7 linked regions of the Homo sapiens genome follow. The protein of the gene in region 1 purifies or fractionates together with the protein of each later gene. This does not show direct contact. Each region holds a gene or a part of one and is shown in the gene's direction. Other genes may lie near its edges. The genes, in order: FOXP1, NFAT5, HOXC13, TFDP1, BNC2, ZFHX4 and MYL12B.

Region 1 (3,500 bases):
GCATGGCAGTCAGGAAAGACAATTAGACAGTGTTCTTTGTTTCTTTAATAAATTATTCTTATTAATTACAGTCAGTTTGTGCTAAGGCATTTTTCAATCCTTGTTTAGAAGTCAGCTGCCATTCACAAGAAGGTTGTGCCAGAAGCTGTGTTCTTCGCACGCACTGTTGTTTTACCCAGTCGTGAAATCTATTGACCAGATTGGCTTGTGGATGTCTCTGCAAGGCTTGTTTTTCTTTTTGCAATGCCCTGATGCCAGTCTTTAATACATGCCCTGCCTTGTACACAACAGGTGTTTGTTCGGTAGTTATTTTATGGGACTTAGAGTGAGAAAAAAATGTTTCCTATCTAGCCAGCCGCTGTGAGAACGAGTGCCTGAAAGGGAGAACCTACCTAGTACCTGAACAGGTGTAAATGGGTGTTTCCTCATGACCCTCCCCAAGCTGTTTTATTTCAAAAGGAGGGGAGGGGGGCTCAGTTTAGTGCCATGAAATTTACAATTCAGTTGTAATAATTTAAGGTTATTGGTAGAGTGCAAAGGGCAGTGGGAGCTTTCTAGTGGTTTGGCCTTGATGCTTAAAGCTGCTCAGTTGTAGGGTTAAATTAGTTCCTTCAGTCTGAGTACTTAAAGTAACTAAATCGTAAACAAAATTTATATTCGATTCTGACAACTAATAATCTATTTAAATTATATTAAAGTATCTGGGCAAAAATTTAATTAAAGACAGAAGTACTGTCAAGCCCTGTAAATATCTTGACAGGTCTACTCAAATGGAACTGATATCACGAAATATTTACATATGTCTGCTGTGTTCGGGAACATCTCAGCAGTGCCTGTGCAAAGCTAATTGCACTTTCCTTCCAAATTGTATTTTTAATAAAATAGTTTTTTTTTTAAAAAGGAATATGAATACATACACAGTTGTGTTCCAGTGTTCTGTTTACTATTTACTTCTCTATACTCAGAATCATGTTGTGATGAGTGTATTTCCTCAAACTGCTGCTAATTCAGATAAATAGCTGAAATGGGATCATTGAATAGAAAGCCCATGTCATTCTGTTTGATTTCAACAGTTTGAAGATATCAGAGGCTAGCATGTTATAGGACAATTTACTGAGGGAAAAATGGATCTGAATGTGGGATTATTGGGCCTTGTTTATGTTCAATAGAATAGATTTGCTTAGGACAAACATTTTCTCTGAGTTTTATGTTTGGACATATATTTATTTATTACTTGTAAGTCAGGTGGACATCCACATTTTACCAGATGCTCTGATTTTAGCTAATTTTGTGATTCACTTTGTTTACTAGGACACTGAAGAATATTTCTAGCATCAAACTGAATTTCCGAGGTGTCCTTTCTCCCTCCCAGCTGTGCAATTGAGTCATAATGTGACTTTCTCTGCTCCAGGTTCCCTGCTTTTGAATTAGGGGTAATATTTTAACATATGTTCTTTGAGCTTAGGGATCCAATGATACAGGGCTTTGTTATTACTCACATTTTTAAAAGATATTCTTGGTGCTCTCAGGACAGTGACCGCAGCTTTTGTTGGGGGAGGGTGTGATGTGAGTTTTGCTTGAGTTTCTTTTGCCCTGGTGCCTACCTCCTGATGACCAGTGGCACTGGTGGCTTCCCCTCCTGGGGGTGAGCACAGAGATGGAAGTGAATGCTCATGTCTGAAGTGAAGGGAGGTTGCAGTTGGTCCTAATTCAGCCTGGTTCAAAGTGAGGTCCTCGCTCACCTACCTCTGTATCTGTGTGTGTGTGTGTGTATGTGTGTGTGTGTAGGTTATTAAAATACAGATCCTTGAGTCAGAATTTTTGCTGATTGACATGGTAACGTACATTTATAACAAACTTCCCTTGATAATTCTGATGCATGCTAGAGACCTGTGAATCAAGTGATTTATTCTTTCAGATGTGTGGAACTGAAATCTCTATCTTCACTTGGATTTTACTGATGATTTCTTTGATTTTACCTTGAGGCCCATCCTGTGTTGTTTTTAATGTATTTGGATTTTTATTACGAATGAAAAACGGTGGTTTTTAACCAAGCACGAGTATTGGAATCACAGCAGAGCTGTTGTTCCCAACACAGACACAGTTGCACGACTCCTGGATGTGCCGTATCTGGGGTGGGGCCAGCATCTGTGTTTTTAAATCGCATCCCACATGGTCCTGATGCCCACCAAAGTGGGAAAACTGGACCTGTCAATTATCAGAGTTGGAGGAAAGCCTGCAACCCTTCTTAAGAGTTTAATTGAATTGGTTGGCCATTGTGAAACCTAAGAGAAGAAAACGGAGCTCCTTTTTCAGGAGGGCACAAAAAGAAACCTTGGAGACTTAGAGAAACAGAGGCAGAACAAGAGCCTCACAGTTCAATAACGTGATAGGAACAACCTGGAACATCGGTGGTTTTCACCAAATGTCAATATCAGATAATTTCCTTTTGAATTTTGTCTTGCCTGCATCCATGTTTCCCAATGGGTGTTGTCATGCTGTAGCTACCAATTAGTGTCAGATGACTCTCTAGAATTTTTTTTTCTGAGTATTCCATCTTAATTTTAAAATTGTAACTGTTTGCTCTTTGGATTAACCCTGCTGGCAGAAGTATTTTGATTTTCCCAAGCATCTTGGGAAATTCTCTATCGTATGTGATGGGGCATGCACGAATATTGATGGAAATAGCCTAGCCAACGATGCCACACAAATAAAGAAACCAGAATCCTAAGAAGAAGGCATCCTACAAGATTATGAAATAAAGGAAGATAAAATGTTAAGGAGGCTTATTTAAATATTCAGGGCTTCAACTAAAGATCTAACCACTAAGATCAAAAGAGTTATTTAAATAAAAGTTGTTGAGACATTTTTTCATCTGTATTAATAATGTGGCTTTTGAAGTTACCCGGTAATAATGTGTCCATAATGCCCACACCTAATTTTTAATTTCCATTTTGGCTTTAGGTGTGGCTTTATTTTAATAGCTGCCAAAAAGTTGGCAATTGTTTTTACGTTTAGAACTTCACAGTTTGCTTTTCTGTAGGTTTAGGTAGCATTGGGGATATTCGTCTAATAAAAACTTTTAAAATTTCTGTTCTGACCCTGAGGCACTTAAAAAAAACTCTTATGGGCCAAATTTTAAAAGTAGAGTGTCTCTACTACTGCATAAAGAATTTCTATAAAAGATGAAACATGGAGCTGATTGAAAGAATAGACGGCGCAATGGTAGAGGACACATAGTTACCACTGTCACTGGTAATCTACAGCTTGATGCGAAGTCATTCCGCCTTGTTTGTTGAAATGTTAATCATTTCATTAAGAAAGGTTAAGTAATTAACTGATATTTCATTAGGGAATCAATGACAGACCTTTTTTTAGTGATGTATGGTAGATATTTTCTAATAGAAAGTTTGCCCCATTTAATTATTTGGAAAGAAGCTAGTTGATTGAGCCTTGGGAAGGAGGGGTGGGGCATCTTCAGATAACATCTATGTCCATAA
Region 2 (4,281 bases), on another chromosome or scaffold:
GGGTGGCTCTGAAAAGCTTTCTGAACCTCCGACAAAAGAAAAATGTTCACAGGATTGATTACTACACACAATTCAGTGAAGACAACTGGGCAACCTGAATCAAATGTTGAGATGAAAGATAGGTGAGCTCTGATGACACACGTTTAAATTCTAGGTCTACAGGTAAAACTTTGTAAAGGGCCTTGCCTCAGCGACATCTGTACTGGGCCCTCCTTTGCTGAGAGCTTCTTACCCCAACCCTAGCACTCCAAGTCCCGAGAACTGCTCAATTTCATGGGAAAAAGTCTCTATAATTATATATATATGTATATATGTGTGTATATATGTATGTATATATATGTGTGCATATATATACACATACACATATTACAACAGACTGATTTTCATGAGTTGTAACTATCCTTGTAGATAAAAAACGAAACCATTCGAATAGCTTAAAAACCATGCCCACGTGGCTACTGGCATCAATATTCCACACAAGATTAAAATTACTTCCCAAGATGCACACCCTGCACTCCAGGTAATATTTCAATAACTTGATTAAAAATTTCTCAGAAGTCTATTAGAATCAGAAAACGCTCTGCGGTGTGGGTGAGGATTTTAAATTTTTGCAACGGAAACTTTTGGCTCCACGAACAGAAAAGCAAGAGCAAAAACTCAGTTAAATGCGTTCTTCCTCCATCTTTGCCTAGTCCAAAAGGAAAAAAAAAGAAACAGAAAAAAGAAAAACTGTTTGGAAGAGTAGCGTTGAGGTTTGCTTTTTACCTGTTTTTCCTCTAGAACAGCCAGGTGGATTCACATGATCCAATTTTTTAATTGTCTTCTATGTCCCACTCCGAATAACCCGGATGCCCCAGCACAATCAGAGAGATCGTTTTTTTTAAAAAAAATTTCAGCCTCCAAAGGTAGGAGGGGAGTGTTAGGGGAGAAAGTACTTTAATTAAAAATCAATAACTCGAGGTTTTTGGGATACGGTTTGCCATTTCCTAATTAAGAAATGGGTTTGACAGTCCCTTTGTACACACTGCTATGCAAACCCCAAAGGGTTGGCGGCTGTCCGGGCGATGACACTCCGGTCCCCTGCGAGACCCCGGGCCAGCCAGGCCCGTCCGCCGCCGGCCTCTGGGGTCCGTCCCCGGCTCGCGCAGACCTCTCGCTTCTCTCGGCTCTGTCTCCTGCGCTCAGCTCTGCTCGGGGCCGGCCGCCTCAGGCTCGCCGCCACCAGGTCGTTGCAAATACCTTTTCCCTCCCCGGGGCCCCAGCGCGCGGCCACCTCCCAGCCTCCCCCCCTCCCACCCTGGCAGCGGGGCCCTTTCCCGGCTCAGGAACAGCAGCAGCCCGGGCCGCGCCGGCAGGAAGCGAGGCCCATGTTGCTGCTGTTCCCTGGCGCGCCTCCCCGCCCTCCGGGGGCCGCCACGGCTCTTCCGCGCTCCCGGGCACCCCCCTCCGCGCCTGCGCTGTGCCCCACGGGGGCGGGGCTCAGATTCCTGTCAGCGGCGGCGGCGGTGGCGGCGACCGTCAGTTTTCGCTGAGGAGAAACACGAAACGGACCCTTTGGCTCTCCCCCTTCCCCTTCCCCGTCCTGAACCCCTCTCCTGGTCACCGAGAATCAGTCCCCGTGGAGTTCCCCCTCCACCTCGCCATCGTTTCCTCGGTCCTCGGCCCAGTGGAAGTCACTACCCTCGAGGAGGAGGCAGCGGCAGCCGCCCTCGCGTCGCCGCCCCCGGTTCGGTGCCCGCGGTCCCGGAGAGGAGGTGCCGCCGCCACCGCCGCTCCCCCCCTCCCGCTGCCCTCGGGCCGGGCTGGGTCGAGCTGCGATGCCCTCGGACTTCATCTCATTGCTCAGCGCGGACCTAGACCTGGAATCGCCCAAGTCCCTCTACTCGCGAGGTGAGTCAGGCTGTGGGGGGTGGGGCGTGGGGGCGGGGAGACAGGGAGACAGGGAGACAGGGCCAGGGGAGGCGAGGGGTCCCCGTCCCGCCGGGGGCGGCTGAGCCGCGACCCCCATGGCTTCTTTGGCCGGAGCGGGCAGAGGCCGAAGGGATCGGGGTGACGGTGGAGGGGGCGGGCGGAGCAGTGGCGGCCCCTCCCCCGCGGAGCCGCCGGCCGCTCGGGGCCCAGATTCCGTCGGCCCCCGGGGCTCTGCGGCACCGGTCGCTTCTAGCCGCTCTCAGCCCGTCCGGCCCCGCCAGGCTCCGCGAGCCGCCGGCCCCGGCCTCCCGGGCTCGGGGATGGCCCCAGACTGGGCCCCGCGCTGGGGCCACCGCGATCGGGGCGCCGCGTCTTCTCTTACCGGGACCCTCCTCCCCAGCAAAGTTGCCCCCAAGCGGGCGGCGTGGCCTGGAGCCGGTTCTGAGTGCAGGGTCACCATTTTCCTCCCTTTCCAGCTTGTTTTTGCGCCGTCGTTCCACCCCCTCTCCCTCCGGCCTAGTCCACTCCCTCCCCATGTTGGGACAGCCCCCCTCGACCAGGCGTTCTTCCTTTCCTCGTCATCTTCTTGCTGGAAAGGGCCCGATGGAAAGGGCCCGAATTTTCTTTTCTTTTTTTTTCTCTTCCCACCTCCGTGGCATTCTAATTACTTCTCCCTTCTCCTTTACAAAGATGGGGGTGCCCTCTCTGGATTGGTTTTATTCCTCTCCTCTCCCAGGAGGACCAGCCCAGGCACAGACGCTGTCCTTTGAGAATTTTCTCTGCTTTTCCGTTCAAGGGCTGGTTGCAGGGAGGGAGCTCAGGCAGAGACTTTTCATTTAAGAACTCTTTTGGCTAAGGCCTGCAGGGGATTCCCAGCATCTGAAATATTAGCACTGGAGCTGATCCCTACTCAGGTGAAATTCCTTTACTGGACACCACAAGAATGTGTCAGAACAGGTTCCCTGTGCAAGGGGCTTCAAAACCAAAATATTCCCACTGCGCTCTTTACGCTTTTTAAACCACCGGGAGGGGGCAAAAGACATAACTGGGTTGTTAACTATTCATTTCACCGTGTAAAAAAAAATGTAGGTGTTTCTTCTGCTTTTGGTTTGATGTATCCATCCATTTGCTTATTCCACCCCCTCCAAAAAAGGGACTTCACCTTCCTACTAGTGTATCTAAATTGTTTAAGTGAATCAGAGTGAGATGGTTTACTCTGAAAGGTGCTGGACTTTACAGACTGACCATTGATTTTGTACACAGAGTCCTACTTAGTAATTGTAGCCACTGTCTGTTGCTCCAATGACTTTAGTTGGCAGCCACCATCCTGTAGGATGTTTTTCGGGCAACATTACCTGAGGTACTTTAGAAATATTGTAGTTTTGAATGTCAAAAAAAAAAGAGACATATCAAGAGATGATTCTTAGAGCAGGGCTAATGTGTTAGAATTGAGTGCTAAAAATAGCCAAGACATTAACACCATTTGGGGAGTAATCATCAGATAATTTTCCATGAAACATATACTTTATGAAAATCTAAGTTTAGCTTCGAGACCAATGTAGAGACAATTCAGCCTCTTTTGCGGGGAATATATTCACAAATATGGGCTTTAGCGCTTAAAAATACACTGCAGTTGGCCGGGCGCAGTGGCTCACGCCTGTATTCCCAGTACTGTGGGAGGCCGAGGCAGTTGGATCACCTGAGGTCGGGAGTTTGAGACCAGCCTGACCAATTTGGAGAAACCCCGTCACCCCGTCACTACTAAAAATACAAAATTAGCCGGGCGTGGTGGTGCATGCCTGTAATCCCAGCTACTCGGGAGGCTGAGGCACGAGAACCACTTGAATCCGGGAGGCGGAGGTTGCGGTGAGCCGAGATCGCACCATTGCACTCCAGCCTGGGCAAAAAGAACGAAACTCCGTTTCAAAATGTATGTGTGTATATATATATATGTGTGTGTGTGTGTGTGTGTGTGTGTGTGTATATATATATATATATACACACACACACATTGCAGTTATATAAGAGATGTATGCTATCCTTGGCATTTTTTTCCTCATTCAGCATAAAAAGTACCTAATGCTTTTTGTGTTTTTCAGATTCTCTGAAGTTACACCCATCACAGAATTTTCATAGAGCTGGACTATTGGAAGGTCAGCAAAGTACCATTTTAAAGCATATTGTGTTAGTATGCAAAGGCTTTCTCTGAAATGGAGTTTAAATGGGAAAGTATGAAACTTTGCAAACTCACACAATGTAGTTTTCTCCTAAAGAGTCTGATCCTTCTTTTAGAGCAGCTGAATGTTTCAATGGGTTTTGTTGCTGCGTTTGATGTGCTTGTTGGCTGTTCTATCTGCTTTGAGAAACATT
Region 3 (2,607 bases), on another chromosome or scaffold:
CCCTGAAATATACAACAGAATGTCTTCCTCTGGCAACGGGGCAGAATATAAACTAATAAGGACCCAAGCGATCTAACTGCAGGAAGGAGGGATTTTTCTGAATATCTGAAATTCTGCAAGCATGGCAGGCCAGGCTGGAATTTGGAGGGTCCCTTCTAAATATACAAGGATCCTAATATTGAGTGCTGTGAAGAGCCATATTGGGGCCTGAAACAAAAGAAAATCAGTAATACCGAACCCATGTTTATTTTTTTAATTGATATTTTGTTCATCATGGATGTTTTTGTATTCGTTTTGCTTTTTTAAACATTGCATTAAAATATCGTCTTGATTACTGAGTTTTTGGCGCCCCCTCCCTTAAACTTCGAGCCCAGTGGCCTCATCATAGTTGTGGTCTTGCTAAAATAACAGAAATGAAAAGCATTAGGGAGCTTCACTATGCAGTGCAATCCTCTGGCCCCGTTGAGCCCCTGCCAGAACTCTGTGCCTAGGCAGCCTCGGGTCCTCTATCTCAGTCCAGCCGCTTGCCTCACTTCTTCCCGCTTGCCTTATCTCCCCGCAGACGTGGTTCCCCTGCAGCCCGAGGTGAGCAGCTACCGGCGCGGGCGCAAGAAACGCGTGCCCTACACTAAGGTGCAGCTGAAGGAGCTAGAGAAGGAATACGCGGCTAGCAAGTTCATCACCAAAGAGAAGCGCCGGCGCATCTCCGCCACCACGAACCTCTCTGAGCGCCAGGTAACCATCTGGTTCCAGAACCGGCGGGTCAAAGAGAAGAAGGTGGTCAGCAAATCGAAAGCGCCTCATCTCCACTCCACCTGACCACCCACCCGCTGCTTGCCCCATCTATTTATGTCTCCGCTTTGTACCATAACCGAACCCACGGAAAGACGCTGCGCGGGTGCAGAAGAGTATTTAATGTTAAGGAAAGAGAAGAACCGCGCCGCCCGGAGGCAGAGAGGCTCCATGGCCGTGCTGCTGGGCCATCCCCAACTCCCTATCCCATCCCCAGCCTCCACCCCCATCCAGATGGGACTCACGTGGCTTCAACAGCTTTGGAAATGGGTCCCGAGTGGGCCGTGCGAGGAAGGCTGTCGACCTCTACTCCTCCTTGCGCTCACCTTGCCAGAAAGTCTGGTGGCAGCGCAGAGCCCAATCATTCCAACCAAAGCAGGGTTGGGGAATCCCGAATGGCCCCAATTCTTGCCTCATCCTATGACCAGGCTTTTAGAGGACCTTCCCTAAGGGCGCAGCTTCGGAGCAGGATCTGTCCAGCTCATACTTTCCTTCGCTGTCCCTCCCGCACTCCTTAGGCAAGATTTCCCAGTAAAGATTTTCTGTGCGTATTTTAAAAGTCGTGTTAATACTCATGATAATTATTAGGGACCTGGCAGCGTGATTGGAGTATGGATGTTTCCGTAAAAGCTGGAATTCCGTAAAAGCATTGACGCAGCCCCTACACTCCATCCCAACCAAGAAACTGCATTTCCTGGGGCCAGGTGGGAGCTGCCTTTGCCCCACTGCCTCCCCTGTTCTGCTCTCTCAGTCAACATGTGGAAATCCAAGGAGGACAAAGACTCCAGCCACGCTGCTAAATAGGGCTCCTCTCTCCTCTCTCTCTCTCTAGGTGGTAAGGTTGGGGATTAGTCCAGGTACAGAAGCAGAACTTTTTTCTAAGGATAAACATCTCTTCCAAGGGGATGGAGAGTGGGTCCCTCAACAAAGTCCCTGTCCAGTCACCTTTCCATCAGGGCACTAGCCCAGGAATGACTCCTCACACTTTCACCTTTACTGATTTCCAGAGGAAAGCTAGAGGATCTAGTTCAAGAGGCAAGAAGATCTGGCCCTCAATTAGCTAGATGTAGATGCTGCCTAACAGTTCCCTCCTCAAAGGCCACCTTGGTGCTGTGGGGGCCCCTTGCCTCTTCCCTTCCCACTGGTGCATTACAAAACAGTGTTCTTTTGAAATGTTCATCAGGAATAGGCTTTTTTAAAAAATGTTGTGTATCTGTATATAGTATTGTGATGTCTGAATGACAATGTACTGAATGCAAAAAGGAAAAAAACCCACAAACATGTTTTTAAAATAAAATATCTTTTTTTGCCTTGATTTTATTGCTCAGATTCTTTCTGAAGTCTATTCTGTCCACTGGCTCTTCAGGACAGTCTACTATGCCCTGACTCAGCCAGAATGATCAGGGGGAGGAGTATAGACATTGCTCCCAGCTGGGTAGATTCCAAACCCTTGTTTTGCTCCACTTAAGTTTTTGGGTTATCTATACTATCTATATAGGAGAAAACTTTCCATCCTGATGTCCAACTCAGATGAGTGTTTGTTGAGGAAGGAAAGACGTAATTGGTGACTGAAAGGCCTGGAGGCAGTGACAAAAATACATTGATGGTTACTTCGGTTAATAATTGGGGCTCAGATCTGGTTCTGGGTACTGAGAAAGTAGCATCCCAGCTGGGAACTGGATGAGGTAAATGCGGCAGCCGGTGGCAGTGAGGAATTAACCTTAGGCTCCTGGTGCTCTATTGCCCCAGAGGGCCCCGAATACCTTCAGCCAGTTCAGGACTGGAGTTGGGGCTGGGATGGGGTCAGCACAGCCT
Region 4 (3,500 bases), on another chromosome or scaffold:
CTCGTTGTAAGTCAGTTCCTCGTTGTAAGTCCACTCTTTGTGAGTAGGTTTGCTCCTGCCTGGAGGACAGCGGCACGGTGACGGCATCTGTTTTGGGGCCAAGATCCAGTGCCTTGCGTGGTCCTGGGATTCCTGGGGAAGGGAGTGGACCCATGAGGTGGGTTAGAATCGTGTGTGGGATTCTCCAGCCCCCTGTACCTGTGCGTGTGGTATGCGCGGAGCCAGCCAGCACTGCCTGGCGTGGAGCTGGCGGGTTCTCAGTCTGACATCAACTCCCGGAGAATGGCATCTGCTGAACTCAACGTAGGAAGCCGTGCGGGGCCAGCGCGCTCTCAGGCAGCCTGAGTGGCAGGGTCCTTTTGTCAGCTGTTTGGATCTCCCACGTGGCCCAGTGCCCCAGCAGCACACACACACACACACACACACACACGCGTATTGAACAAAACAAGTTTCACAGGACATTTATCCACGCCCAGGAGATTTATCTTTTGTATGGCTTCATTTTGCAGAAAATTCACTTGTTTGATTTCATGGCCTGGTGATCCACAGAAGGCCGCACTCTGATGAGTCTCTGATCATCGGAGAGATGAGTGTCAATGAAAAGATCAGTCCTTGAAATGTTTTTCTTCTCCGGAGCTGACAGGTGATCTGGCCTAGGGATAATTGGAAAGTGTCCCCGTCAGCTGCTCCCAGGGCCACCGCAGGTGATGCATTTATCCCCGTAAGAAGGGGAGCTGGGGGGGCCCAGCTTAGAGTAGCTCAGGGCATCGGCCACATGAAGCCCCCCCGCCAGCATACAGGTGTCCAGCTCCAATCCCTTTAACGGAAACTGCATGTCCATACAAGCAGTATAATCGCTGAGGCACTTTGATTTGTGGTGAATTGAATGATTTAACATTTACTGAGAAATAGTGTTTCCAGTTTAGATAGAGTCGTGCCACAAGATCTTTGAAAAGTCAGAGTTGTATTTGCCTGTATGAGGGTGTCCAGGTATTCACACTCGAACATTCATTGTTGGAACTAAAGTGGTAAGACCTTGTCAAGAGTCAGACCAGCCAGCATGTCCCTGAAGGGAGAGACAGTTGTTGACACCCTCAGGTGTGCTGTGGGGTGGGGCGGGTGGGTCAGTGTCCACACTGGCGTTGCCTCTGGTGGTTCCCCCCAGAGGGGCCCAGGTGTGTGAGCCCCAGGGGCGTGTGGAGCCCCTACCTTCCGCCCCCAGTGCTGGTGGCCCTCCCTCCTTGCCTGACGCCGTTGTGGGTGCAGGGGTTCCCCCAGACAGGGCCCCAGGGCACAGGGTTACCAGGTGATGGCTGTCACCCTGCTGGGCTGGAGGAGCAGCTGCTGTCACCCTGCCTGTGCTTTTGTCTTTTGAGAGCTGTTTTTGGTTTGTTTCAGGCCTCTTTTTAGTACCACAGAAGGATACAATTTCATCCTCATCCATATCACTAAAAGGAAGTAAAAGGGTGAAGGGAAAAATGGAAGCGTGCTCAAGTGCCCTGTGTGGAATTCTGTGCCGCCCCCTTCATTAAACTTGACCGTTAGCGCCTTGTGTGCGGTTTGGGGGTCACGCTCTGCCCTGTCCTGTTCTTGCTTGCTTGGGTCGTCCGAAGTTTCTTGTTGCTTTTGTCTAATTGGAGAAGATGCCTGTGACTGACAAGAGGAAGATGAGCCACATTCAGAACCGGTGGGGTGATGCCGTCACCGTGACAAAAGCGTCCACCGCTGGACGTTTTTCCTGCTCCGTCATGGCTGCTCACTGTGGTTAAGGAAATTCAGCAGTGGCTGCGGATAGCGAACAGATGGTGGGCATGGCACCCTCGCCGTGTGGGAGGGGACTGACTGTCTGAATTGTCTTTTTCGACTGTAGGTAATTGGTACGCCTCAGAGACCGGCAGCGTCAAACACCCTGGTGGTAGGAAGCCCACACACCCCCAGCACTCACTTTGCCTCTCAGAACCAGCCTTCCGACTCCTCACCTTGGTCTGCCGGGTGAGCACTTCCCTCTGGACCCTTAGAGTTGTAGGACTGCTTGCGGTTCGCACCTCCACGTTCTCCTGGGCCACGTGTGTCACACAGTCGTGCGATGGGGCTCCCACGCGCGTTGACGCCAGCCTCCGAATCACACTCACCCATCATCGTGGCCTGCACAGGTGTGCAGCCGAGGCGCACTGCCTCGGTCATGGAGAAGTCGGGCTGGGCACCGCCCACCCCGCTTTGTGTCTGGTGTAGTGGGTGCTCTCTGAAGGGCTGGCAGCTCTTGGCCAAGACGGGGAGAAGCTGGCCTCGTACTCGCCACAGGACCTCGGAGACTTTCCCTCGTCTGTGCTGGGAGCATGTGGGATGGATTTCACCCACTGCCCCTGAATTCAGCCTCTACTGCCCCTGGGGTTACGGCCCCCGCGGGTGGTCCCGCCAGAGCTGCTCCTTCCACTAAAGCAAGATCTGATGAGCTGTGTCTTTCCTTAAAAACACACACACGCAAAGCTGCAAAAGCCTGCCTGTGTTGGTGCCCAAAGCTTCACCAGCTAGGAACCTCAGGTGGCCTTTCCCGCCATGTGGGGACTGACCAGAGTGTACAGAGTTGGGCTTTCCCTCGACCTGAAGCACACTTAGTGCTTTGCACCTGTTGTCAAGCGGCTGTCACAGCCCAAGCTGTATGAAATTACAGCCTGCTGAAATTAGTCCTAAGAATTCCCAAATTTACACTGAAACGTCCCATAGTTCCTGATTCTGGCTGCCCTCTTTAGAAAAGTGGTGCTTGGGGCTCACGCCTGTAATCCTAGAGGCCGAGGCCAGCAGATCACGAGTTCAAGAGATTGAGACCATCCTGGCCAACGTGGTGCAACCCCGTCTCTATTAAAAATACAAAAAAATTAGCCAGATGTGGTGGCACGTGCCTGTAATCCCAGCTACTCGGGAGGCTGAGGCAGGAGAATCGCTTGAACCCAGGAGGTGGAGGTTGCAGTGAGCCGAGATGGCGCCACCGCACTCCAGCCCACGACAGAGCGAGACTCCGTCTCAAAAAAGAAAAAACAACAACAAAAAGAAAAGTGGTGCTTGGTGTACCGGCACATCTCCCATATGCTGATTTGGGTCCTGGGGACGCCTCCCGTTTTCCCTGACGCTTGGAAGGTTAGAGGTGCAGCCTGCTGGGGAGACACTCGCTTTCTGACCTGCAGGACCACTGGGCCTGGGGGCTGGGGCTAGGGGGTCCTGGCCTGCTCACGTGTTGGATCTGCTGCGCCCGTGGGACGTGGCCCCTTTTTGTGCAGCTCATTAGAGCTCTCAGGTAAAAGCATTCCTCGATTCAGGCTGATCCTCAGGAGGGCTGACAGTCGCTTCTCTTTTCCTTTGTATTTTGAAGGAAGCGCAACAGGAAAGGAGAGAAGAATGGCAAGGGCCTACGGCATTTCTCCATGAAGGTCTGCGAGAAGGTGCAGAGGAAAGGGACCACTTCCTACAACGAAGTGGCAGACGAGCTGGTTGCGGAGTTCAGT
Region 5 (3,500 bases), on another chromosome or scaffold:
TGTTGTTCCTGGGAATATTTCTTATATTAAGGGAGTCCAAAATAGATGATGACTTGAAGTTAGTGGTTTCCTTTACTTTTAATTTTACAGTTAAGGGTTCAGCACGGTTTTAAATATTCCTTAAGTATTTGAAAGATGGCCTTAGTGAATATGAGGAGTTCAATTTAGTACTGTTCACATTCACTTGTTTGAGATGATTTGCCAGTTGACAATGTGGCTTTTATGGTTATTGTAAGATGGCATACTTCAACTGTATTATTTATAGTCTTCTAAACAACCTACGATCCCCAAATATCCAATACTAAATTGCAGGTAAGATTAAACAATAAAAAAGTCATTATACTAGTATTGTGTATAAATACTATGGTACATGAAAATGTTTTCTATACTATTAGCATCTTTGTTTTATATAAACCCCACAGATACAGTTCATGAAGTGTTTTTTTCCTGAATTTTTGAGATTCTGCATTTAAATGTAGATTTTTAAAACTGAGACCAGACCACAAGTTTGAATTTCTGTGGATGTTCATACATGTTGTTGTTTTTTGACATTAAAATTAATTTTAGACAGGATGGGTAAATTTATGTCGTATGGTTTAATCTGATTAAAGTTTCACTATAGAATTCTGTACATAAAGCTTAGGTTGGAAGCAGTTTATAGATTCTTAACTTGATAAATATATAAGGAGCAACGCTTTCTGATTTACTCAGCAGATGGTCTCATTTACCATCTACATCCTTACAAGAAACAGAGTGGAAAACATTTCTTGTGGAAGGGGAGGTAGCCTCCTCAAATCTTTCCTGTTGGATGGGAATTATATAGTATCATTGGTTAGTAAAATCCCCTCTGAAGAGCTAGAGGGAGCCTCATGATTTTATTAGATATACTTAAGGTTTAAAAAACACTCTGGCCATCAGAATGTTGCACAAAAAGAGTAGGTAATGAATACTGGCTCAGTGTTGAGGCTGGGAGGTGCTATTATGGTTTTTTTTTTTTTTTTTTTTTTAAAAGTGACAGAAGCAAAAGAACTTTCTACAAGAACAGTCAAGGCGTCAGCTAAGCTTTCTAGGCTTTTGCCTTTCAGGTGATTTGAAGATCAGGCAAAATGCAACCAGATACTATATTTTAAATGTTTTGGTTTGACTAACTACTGTTTGTAGTTTTTGTCAACTGAGGGAGTTACTCTCGTTTTAGGAGGCCAGTCTTCAGAGTTCTATTAAAAGTAGCTTCCTACGAAATCACCGAGAAGTGGGTTAACTTCTTTTAGTTTATGAAGGACAACCCCTTTTCTGTAAATGATGGTTTTGGAGTAGTTCTACATACAACTTCTGTATTCCAGAGAGAAATTTTCTTTAAAATAAATGCTTCCTGTTATAAGCATAAATGTTAAACTATTTATAAACCTGACTTATTATGGATCAAAAAATAAGTTAAAGAAATAGGATTTAAATGATATTACATTCAATAATTGTCATTTAATTTCATATTTACCACTTTCCATTAACATTTGTGATACAGTTATGTTAAAGAGTCATTGATCATAATTGCACTTTAATATTTATATACTAGTTTTTAGGAGCATTACTTTAGACAAACATATTTATCATTTAAGTAAATAATATAATCCAGTGAGATAAACTACCCAGATTTGTCCTTCTTAAAATCTTTTGCACAGTAGCTCTCATTATGTTGCTAGCCAATAAAAGTCTTTATTTGTTGCTTATTAGAACCCTCAGTACACTCAAGAGTTCAGCTATAATTTAATTTGGCTGTTCAAAGAGCCTCCCTTGTTTTGAAATATATTCTCAGTATGCTTTTACCATTTGTTACGAACCCATATTCTAACTCAATGCGTAAGAACCTATATTCTAACTCAATATGCGTAAGAATGATATTACAGATATATCATTCTTTAAGTTTTTGCTATCGTCATAACTTTTTTCCTTTAAAAATATCCGTACATAACAATATCAGTTTTGTTCTTTTTGCTCTATTTTCTCTTTGACATTCTAGAGTATTTTTCTCTTGGTGATTTAAATTGTTTTGCTGTTATAATTTAAAATAAACTTCCTAAGGAATACAACCTTCCCTTGAGGTATAGTGAGAAGGGCACCAAAAAATAATAGGTTCGATAATTAAGAATTCTAGCTGAGGCCATTTCACAGTTGCAATCACTTACAATTACAAAAAGTTTGCCTGGTACTTCACAAATTGCTAGTAACTGCTGTGAAGTTTTTCAATGAGTAGAAGGTGGCTTTGAGAGTTTTGGTTGTATTTGTAACAAATTACGTTCACTAAAGACTAGAACTTGACTATAAAACTCTAATAAGATGAGTATCAGGAATTCTTCCATAAGGAAGGCAGAATGTGAAACTCCTAAATGACTCACTGTGTATGTATCTTACCAGTGGGAATAGCATCAAGCCAGCCTTCTAGATACAGTATTTAATAGTTGTCAAAATGTACAGTATTGTCTTGGAACTTGTGGTTCATGAGTTCATAGTCCCTGCTTTTTTGTGTTTATTACAAAGATGTAACAACCTACACAAAACATTTTTCTCTTATAATGACCTTACATTTGCCAAAGTGCCCCATGCTGAAATTCCTTTTCAGTGTCTTTTTTTTTTTTTTTTTCAGTCCAAAGCCAGACGTGTACCCAGACACAAAAGCCTCTGTGTATAGCAAGCTGTTTTAAATATTGTGACTCGACGATGTGCTGTCCTTTCTCTGCTTGAGCCAAGGATCTCTGCTCAGTGTCTGTGGATTACCAAGCTCCTTCTTTATTGTACCTCTTGTCAACTATTCCTATTCATTTAACCTTTCATTAGTGTCTGTGCAGCTTCACTGTCTGGAAAGGCAAGGAAAAACCGAAAGGCCCCACTGTCACAGTTATTAGATTTCTCGGTTACATCCCAGCAACCGTAAAGAAGTAAGCGTCGAGACTATTGTCGTGCATGCTGCTGTCCTGGGGTGCAGCTCTTCTGTGCATGTCAAGGACATGTGCCACATGTTGATATGCATCCCAGGGATAAATGCACAACATGGGGGATAGGCCGACGCTGGCAGTAATGAGCTTTGTAGGAGTTATTGCAAAGACCAACAGTTTGTGAAGGAATTTTGCTTAACAGGCCAAGGAGATAGACAGAGTTGAGGGTTGCCAAGATTTGCCTGTGCGGGGCTTGTCAGTCACATTGTTTTCATCCAAACTTCATTTGAGGGGAAAATTGAATACATTTGACAGCAATGGAAAGTCTTATTTTCTTTTTTCAAATCTTTCAGAGGACAAAAGCAGTATTTCTGGTGACTAACATAACTATTTTTAGTACTGACTAAATCATATATATGAATGGATCTATTAGCAGTTTATCTTTTTCCATATCTAGAGAATAATTAAAAGATATTTCATAGATGTCATATATATGTTTTAAAATCTATGTAAAAATAATGTAGCCTATTAATTTTCCTTTGCTCTTTTCCTCCTTTGATTTTCCTCTAGCAT
Region 6 (3,500 bases), on another chromosome or scaffold:
GAAGACCTAAAGCAGCAGATTCAAACCCAACATCACGTTGGTCAAACTCAACTCCAGATACTACAGCAACAAGCACAACAATACCAAGCCACACAGCCCCAGCTGCAGCCTCAAAAACAACAGCAGCAGCCACCACCTCCACAGCAGCAGCAGCAACAGCAGGCAAGCAAATTATTGAAACAAGAGCAAAGTAACATAGTGAGTGCAGACTGCCAAATCATGAAGGATGTGCCATCTTATAAGGAGGCAGAAGATATTTCTGAAAAGCCAGAAAAACCAAAGCAGGAATTTATAAGTGAAGGTGAAGGACTCAAAGAAGGCAAAGACACAAAGAAGCAAAAATCCTTGGAACCATCCATCCCACCACCCCGAATAGCTTCAGGGGCCAGAGGAAATGCTGCCAAAGCGTTATTGGAAAACTTTGGTTTTGAACTGGTCATTCAGTATAACGAAAACAGGCAGAAGGTACAGAAGAAGGGCAAAAGTGGTGAAGGCGAAAACACTGACAAACTAGAATGTGGAACATGTGGTAAATTGTTTTCCAATGTTCTTATTTTAAAGAGTCACCAAGAACATGTACATGGGCAATTTTTTCCATATGCAGCGCTAGAAAAATTTGCTCGTCAATACAGGGAGGCCTATGACAAGCTTTATCCAATTTCTCCATCTTCTCCAGAAACGCCGCCCCCGCCACCTCCTCCTCCTCCCTTGCCTCCGGCTCCTCCACAGCCTTCTTCTATGGGTCCTGTAAAGATCCCCAACACGGTTTCTACTCCTCTGCAAGCTCCACCACCCACTCCTCCCCCACCACCACCACCTCCTCCTCCTCCTCCTCCTCCCCCCCCACCTCCTCCACCTTCTGCTCCTCCACAGGTCCAACTGCCGGTTTCTCTGGACCTGCCGCTCTTTCCTTCCATTATGATGCAACCTGTGCAACACCCTGCGCTTCCTCCCCAGCTTGCCCTGCAGCTGCCACAGATGGACGCACTCTCTGCAGACCTCACCCAACTTTGCCAGCAGCAGCTCGGATTAGATCCCAACTTCTTAAGACATTCTCAGTTCAAACGCCCACGGACAAGAATTACAGATGATCAGCTAAAAATCCTGAGGGCTTATTTTGACATTAATAATTCTCCAAGTGAAGAACAGATCCAGGAAATGGCAGAGAAATCTGGCCTCTCCCAAAAAGTTATCAAACACTGGTTTAGAAATACGCTTTTTAAGGAACGACAGAGAAATAAAGATTCACCATACAACTTCAGTAACCCTCCTATAACGGTTTTAGAAGATATCAGAATTGATCCACAGCCCACCTCTTTAGAACATTACAAATCTGATGCATCATTCAGTAAAAGGTCTTCTAGAACGAGATTTACTGACTACCAGCTTAGGGTTCTGCAAGACTTTTTTGACACAAACGCTTACCCAAAAGATGATGAAATAGAACAACTCTCCACTGTTCTCAATCTGCCTACCCGGGTTATTGTTGTATGGTTCCAGAATGCTCGTCAGAAAGCACGAAAGAGTTATGAGAATCAAGCAGAAACAAAAGATAATGAAAAAAGAGAACTCACTAATGAACGGTACATTCGAACAAGCAACATGCAGTACCAGTGTAAAAAGTGCAATGTGGTTTTCCCCAGGATCTTTGACTTGATTACGCATCAGAAAAAGCAGTGTTACAAGGATGAAGATGATGATGCCCAAGATGAAAGCCAAACAGAAGACTCCATGGATGCCACTGATCAAGTGGTATACAAGCATTGCACAGTGTCTGGCCAAACGGATGCAGCTAAAAACGCTGCTGCCCCTGCAGCAAGTTCTGGCTCTGGGACCAGCACCCCCCTGATTCCATCACCCAAACCAGAACCTGAGAAGACTTCTCCAAAACCTGAATATCCCGCAGAAAAGCCAAAGCAGAGTGACCCCTCTCCCCCTTCTCAAGGCACCAAACCAGCCCTGCCATTAGCATCGACTTCCTCGGACCCACCACAGGCATCCACAGCCCAGCCACAGCCACAGCCACAGCCACCAAAACAACCCCAACTTATCGGAAGACCTCCCTCGGCCTCTCAAACACCGGTCCCTTCCAGTCCACTGCAAATTTCCATGACGTCTCTCCAGAACAGTCTACCTCCACAGTTACTACAATACCAATGTGATCAGTGTACAGTTGCCTTCCCAACTCTGGAACTCTGGCAGGAACACCAGCACATGCACTTCCTTGCTGCTCAAAACCAATTCCTTCACTCTCCGTTCTTGGAAAGGCCCATGGACATGCCCTACATGATATTTGACCCCAACAATCCGCTGATGACTGGACAACTGCTGGGCAGTTCCCTCACTCAAATGCCCCCTCAGGCCAGTTCCTCCCACACCACAGCCCCCACAACGGTTGCTGCTTCCCTAAAAAGGAAACTAGACGATAAAGAAGATAATAATTGCAGTGAAAAAGAAGGAGGGAATAGCGGTGAAGACCAACACCGAGATAAACGCTTGAGAACCACGATCACCCCGGAACAGCTGGAAATACTCTATGAAAAATACTTGCTGGATTCCAATCCTACCAGAAAAATGCTTGATCATATTGCCCGCGAAGTCGGGCTGAAAAAAAGGGTCGTGCAAGTCTGGTTCCAGAATACACGAGCGCGGGAGAGGAAAGGCCAGTTCCGGGCGGTGGGTCCAGCACAGTCTCATAAACGGTGTCCGTTTTGCCGAGCCCTGTTTAAAGCAAAGTCGGCCTTAGAAAGCCACATTCGCTCTCGGCACTGGAATGAAGGAAAGCAGGCAGGTTACAGCTTGCCACCAAGCCCTTTAATATCCACCGAAGATGGGGGAGAAAGCCCACAGAAATACATCTATTTTGATTACCCATCTTTGCCATTAACTAAAATTGATCTATCAAGTGAGAATGAATTGGCTTCTACAGTGTCAACACCTGTTAGTAAAACAGCAGAGCTGTCACCGAAGAATCTTTTAAGCCCTTCTTCTTTTAAAGCAGAGTGTTCTGAGGATGTAGAGAATTTAAATGCCCCTCCTGCTGAGGCTGGGTATGATCAAAATAAAACCGATTTTGATGAGACTTCATCGATTAATACGGCAATCAGTGACGCCACCACCGGAGACGAGGGAAACACTGAAATGGAAAGCACCACAGGAAGTTCCGGAGATGTGAAACCGGCTTTGTCTCCCAAAGAGCCAAAAACTCTGGATACTCTGCCAAAACCTGCAACCACACCTACCACGGAGGTCTGCGATGACAAATTTCTCTTTTCTCTCACAAGCCCATCCATCCATTTCAATGACAAAGATGGCGACCACGACCAAAGCTTTTACATCACAGATGACCCGGATGACAACGCCGACCGCAGCGAAACGTCCAGCATAGCGGACCCGAGCTCCCCAAATCCATTCGGATCCAGCAATCCCTTTAAATCCAAAAGTAATGATCGGCCGGGTCACAAGCGTTTTCGAACGCAAATGAGCAATCTTCAACTCAA
Region 7 (3,500 bases), on another chromosome or scaffold:
TTGAATTTAGAGGATTGTAGGTGCTCAGAAATCAGTGTTGAATTATATTGGTGGCATTGCAAGTTTTAAAAAATTTTGTGCTGAACTCAAAATAATTAGAAGAGTATTTAGTAGGAAGTAGAAAATATACAAGGAGAAACAACCTGTAACAAATGGGATTTGAATCCTAGCTCTGCCACTAGGTGACCTTGGGCAAGATTATTTAATATCTTTGACCTTCAGTTTCTTCATTTGGCAGGTGGGCATGTTTCATTTAATGTACATAATGTTTCTAGCACATGAGTCACTTAATAAATGGTAGTAGCTGTAAGTTGAGTAGATCTTTAATTCTCTCTCTGTTCCTAAGGCAGAGAAGTAGATCAGGGCAACTGGGGCTGGAAAAATAGCAGGAACAAAGATATACAAGATAAGATGTGGCATGGTACCTTGGGGACATTTGCAGTTTGGTGTTGCTAAAGGAAAAGTACAAAGCAGGGAATGGCTAGAGAGGAGGCTGGAAAGGTCATTCTAGAGTAGGGAAAGGAAGACTCATGCACCATGTTTAGGAACTTGGTACTTTATCCTTTAGAAAGTGGAGAGCCAAAGAAGATTTTAAAAAGTGGAATGATGAGGTCATATTCATGTTTTAGACAGCCCTGCCTAGAAAACTAAGGGTAGTTTTGAGAGAGCCGAGAGGCAAGGGGATAGTGAAGAGGCCATAGAGATATTTTACACAAGAGATAATGAGGATCCAGTTTAGGGTGATGACAGAGGAATGAGGAAGATGAGCAACTCTGAGAAATATTTCTCAGAGGCAGGGCTTGGTTCATCAGGGAGAGGGATTGGGGAGGGTGACTCCTAGGTTTCTGGCTGCTGGGTAGATGATTGGAAACAAAGATGGTAAAGTTCAGGAGGGGAGAGATAATTGAGTTTTCAGCATGTTGATTATGAGTGTCTGTGGCATATCCAGATGGGTGCCTTTCACAGGCATTTGGATGTTTGAGTCCAAGGCTCCAAGGAAAGGTCAGGCCTGGAGGTTCGGATTTAGGAGGTGCAGGCATTGTCATAACAGTGAAAGTTGATGAGATCATCCAAGGAATGAAGACTGAAAAGAACTTTAAACCATGTGCTGCTAGAATACTGGGAAACATGAATATTTAAACGGAGATAAACATCTAAGAGGAAAATGGAGGAGGAAATCTTAGAAATAGGAGAACTGAGCTAGAGTAAGTCAAATACACCATTTTACATAATCAGTCTTTCCAATATAATGCTTAGCAGTCTTCCTGATTAGAGCGTAAGTTCTTCAAGGTTGGGACCCTTTCCACCTGGGAAAGTTCATTTCTACTGTTATGGAGCACCAGGCTAACAGTGGCTGTCTCTCCAAAGAAAAGAGGGATAAAATAGTGTGATGCAGTAGACTGATCCAAGAAGATTTAGACCAGATTTGGCAATTAAAGCAGTTGCAGTAGAGAACAGAAAGCCAGATTGTGGTGGGTTGAAAAGTGAGTGGGAAGTGAGAAGGTGGAGGAAGCCAAGATACTTATTTCAGAAGGGAAGGAGAGAGGGTGGTAATTTCTTTGGGGGCCAGAGTTCCCTTCAGATTGATTATTTTGATGCAACTTTGCCTCACTTTTCAGCTGATACTGTATGTGTAGTTTTTATAGGTACCATATACGTATACAAATGTACCACTGTTTTTAAATGAAGTATGAAAAAAATTTAAAATATAGTATTACTACATTGAGCCTATATCTGCTCTAACATATTTTGATTGGGACCAGTTAGTGAATTGTTTTTTGTTCTCTTCCATCAACTTGCCTTCTGTTTCCTTCTCTTGGGTGTCACCATCAGATGGTGATGGCTCTTCTAGTTATCAGGCTAACTAACTCCCTATTCTTTCTCACAGGCATTTCCCCTAATAAAATCCTTGGGTGTTTCATTCTGTCTTGGTATCAGCTTCTTAGAGAACTCGGACTAAACTTCAAAAATGTTTAAATATAGTATATTTTTGGGTTAACTGTAGAAGTAGCATGATACAATTGACTGATTCTGATTTGATTTGATTTGATTTTTTGAGACAGTGTCTCGTTTTGTCACCCAGGCTGAGGTTAGGGGCACCATTACGGTTCACCAGCCTCGACCTCCCAGGCTCAAATGATCCTTCCACCCCAGCCTCCCAAATAGTAGCTGGGACCACAGGCATGTGCCACCACACCTGGCTAATTTTTTAAATTTTTTGTAGGGACAGAGTATCACTTTGTTGCCCAGGCCTATCTCAAATTCCTGGGCTCAAGCAGTCTTCTGGCCTCAGCCTCCCAAAGTGTTGAGATTATAGGTGTGAGCCACCGCACCCGGCCTGATTCGTTTTTAAAAATAAATATTTAACTCTTTTGGAACTTTTTCTAAATAACTCGATTACAAAAATTACTTGCTGATACTGAGAGAGAACTAATAATTTTTGCCTTCAGATGTATTTGACTAATCTTGAAGAAATTGAGTCAAAATTTTTAGCATGAGAATGAACCTTAATCTAAGTTTTGGTATGTGAAGAAGAATGAAAACATAATCAAATGCCTTGTTAGTAGACTACATTCTGTCTCTGATTTAACCTTCGATATAACTAAGGTCAAATAACAAACTAAGTTACAAGGAAGAGAAGAAAATTAACATTTATTTAGGACTTGTATATGGGGAGGGTAAGGAGTTGGAATGTTAGAGTAAGGACTGTAAGGCTGGTGTACTTCAAAACAACACCACTAAGCCAAGCTTCAAAACACCCTGTGGGATGTTCTTTAGCTTGAATAAATAGAAGTAGACAATACATTTATATAAAAAATCCCAATACCAGAAGTCCTGGAGACTTAGGTCCAAAATCCCCTTGCTCAGTCATTGACCTCTCTAGTCATTTGTTTTTCACATTGCAGGAAGTTACGGAAACAGTCTGCAAGACCATCATTTCTGACAGCAGTTTCAAGTTTGGATGTCCTAAGACCACCCTTGCGTTTGATTATTTGCTAAGACTCACAGAACTCACTGAAAGCTGTTAGGCTCACAGATACATAGGTTTTCAGAGGTTATATGTAGCTAGTAACGGTGGAGCTGAGATTTGAACTCAGGACTTCCTAACTCCAGAGCTGATGGTATTTTTGTGTTTTATTTATTATTTAAAACTGCAAATTAAAAATGAAATGACAAGTGCCTTTTCTGCTTGACATTTAAATTATTGGTGGCTTTCAGTAGAGTGTTGGAAGCTACTACCAAAGCCATATTACGGAGAATGGAGGAATGATTGGGAAGAAGAGAAAAGGGGCTGGGCACGGTGGCTCATGTCTGTAATCCCAGCAGTTTGGGAGGATCTCGAGCCTCAGAGTTCAAGATCAGACTGGGCAATATAGTGAGAAACCCCCCATCTCTAAAATAAAAAACAGAAGGAAAAATGAAGACAGTTCAGCATTAGACTGGTATTCTGAAAGTCTTGTCAAGGGAAAAGGGAAATGCAGGGATAGCTAGAAAGATGA

Evidence for each region.
Region 2: the proteins of FOXP1 (region 1) and NFAT5 purify together in Homo sapiens (affinity purification with mass spectrometry, with the first as the bait; one study listed by BioGRID). This does not show direct contact.
Region 3: the proteins of FOXP1 (region 1) and HOXC13 purify together in Homo sapiens (tandem affinity purification; one large-scale study listed by IntAct). This does not show direct contact.
Region 4: the proteins of FOXP1 (region 1) and TFDP1 purify together in Homo sapiens (affinity purification with mass spectrometry, with the first as the bait; one study listed by BioGRID). This does not show direct contact.
Region 5: the proteins of FOXP1 (region 1) and BNC2 purify together in Homo sapiens (affinity purification with mass spectrometry, with the first as the bait; one study listed by BioGRID). This does not show direct contact.
Region 6: the proteins of FOXP1 (region 1) and ZFHX4 purify together in Homo sapiens (affinity purification with mass spectrometry, with the first as the bait; one study listed by BioGRID). This does not show direct contact.
Region 7: the proteins of FOXP1 (region 1) and MYL12B purify together in Homo sapiens (affinity purification with mass spectrometry; one large-scale study listed by BioGRID and IntAct). This does not show direct contact.

What each region holds. Positions count from the first base shown.
Region 1 is NC_000003.12:71,573,729-71,577,228, reverse strand, and holds part of FOXP1 (forkhead box protein P1), read left to right. Parts: intron 1-3,500. UniProt on the Homo sapiens protein: Transcriptional repressor. Can act with CTBP1 to synergistically repress transcription but CTPBP1 is not essential. Plays an important role in the specification and differentiation of lung epithelium.
Region 2 is NC_000016.10:69,564,485-69,568,765, forward strand, and holds the start of NFAT5 (nuclear factor of activated T-cells 5), read left to right. Parts: upstream 1-1,481; 5' UTR 1,482-1,817; coding exon 1,818-1,890; intron 1,891-4,010; coding exon 4,011-4,064; intron 4,065-4,281. UniProt on the Homo sapiens protein: Transcription factor involved, among others, in the transcriptional regulation of osmoprotective and inflammatory genes. Binds the DNA consensus sequence 5'-[ACT][AG]TGGAAA[CAT]A[TA][ATC][CA][ATG][GT][GAC][CG][CT]-3'.
Region 3 is NC_000012.12:53,944,438-53,947,044, forward strand, and holds the end of HOXC13 (homeobox protein Hox-C13), read left to right. Parts: intron 1-562; coding exon 563-819; 3' UTR 820-2,107; downstream 2,108-2,607. UniProt on the Homo sapiens protein: Transcription factor which plays a role in hair follicle differentiation. Regulates FOXQ1 expression and that of other hair-specific genes.
Region 4 is NC_000013.11:113,629,753-113,633,252, forward strand, and holds part of TFDP1 (transcription factor Dp-1), read left to right. Parts: exon of another isoform or gene 1-1,550; intron 1,551-1,870; coding exon 1,871-1,992; intron 1,993-3,367; coding exon 3,368-3,500. UniProt on the Homo sapiens protein: Can stimulate E2F-dependent transcription.
Region 5 is NC_000009.12:16,864,171-16,867,670, reverse strand, and holds part of BNC2 (zinc finger protein basonuclin-2), read left to right. Parts: intron 1-3,500. UniProt on the Homo sapiens protein: Probable transcription factor specific for skin keratinocytes. May play a role in the differentiation of spermatozoa and oocytes. May also play an important role in early urinary-tract development.
Region 6 is NC_000008.11:76,852,247-76,855,746, forward strand, and holds part of ZFHX4 (zinc finger homeobox protein 4), read left to right. Parts: coding exon 1-3,500. UniProt on the Homo sapiens protein: May play a role in neural and muscle differentiation. May be involved in transcriptional regulation.
Region 7 is NC_000018.10:3,268,633-3,272,132, forward strand, and holds part of MYL12B (myosin regulatory light chain 12B), read left to right. Parts: intron 1-3,500. UniProt on the Homo sapiens protein: Myosin regulatory subunit that plays an important role in regulation of both smooth muscle and nonmuscle cell contractile activity via its phosphorylation. Phosphorylation triggers actin polymerization in vascular smooth muscle.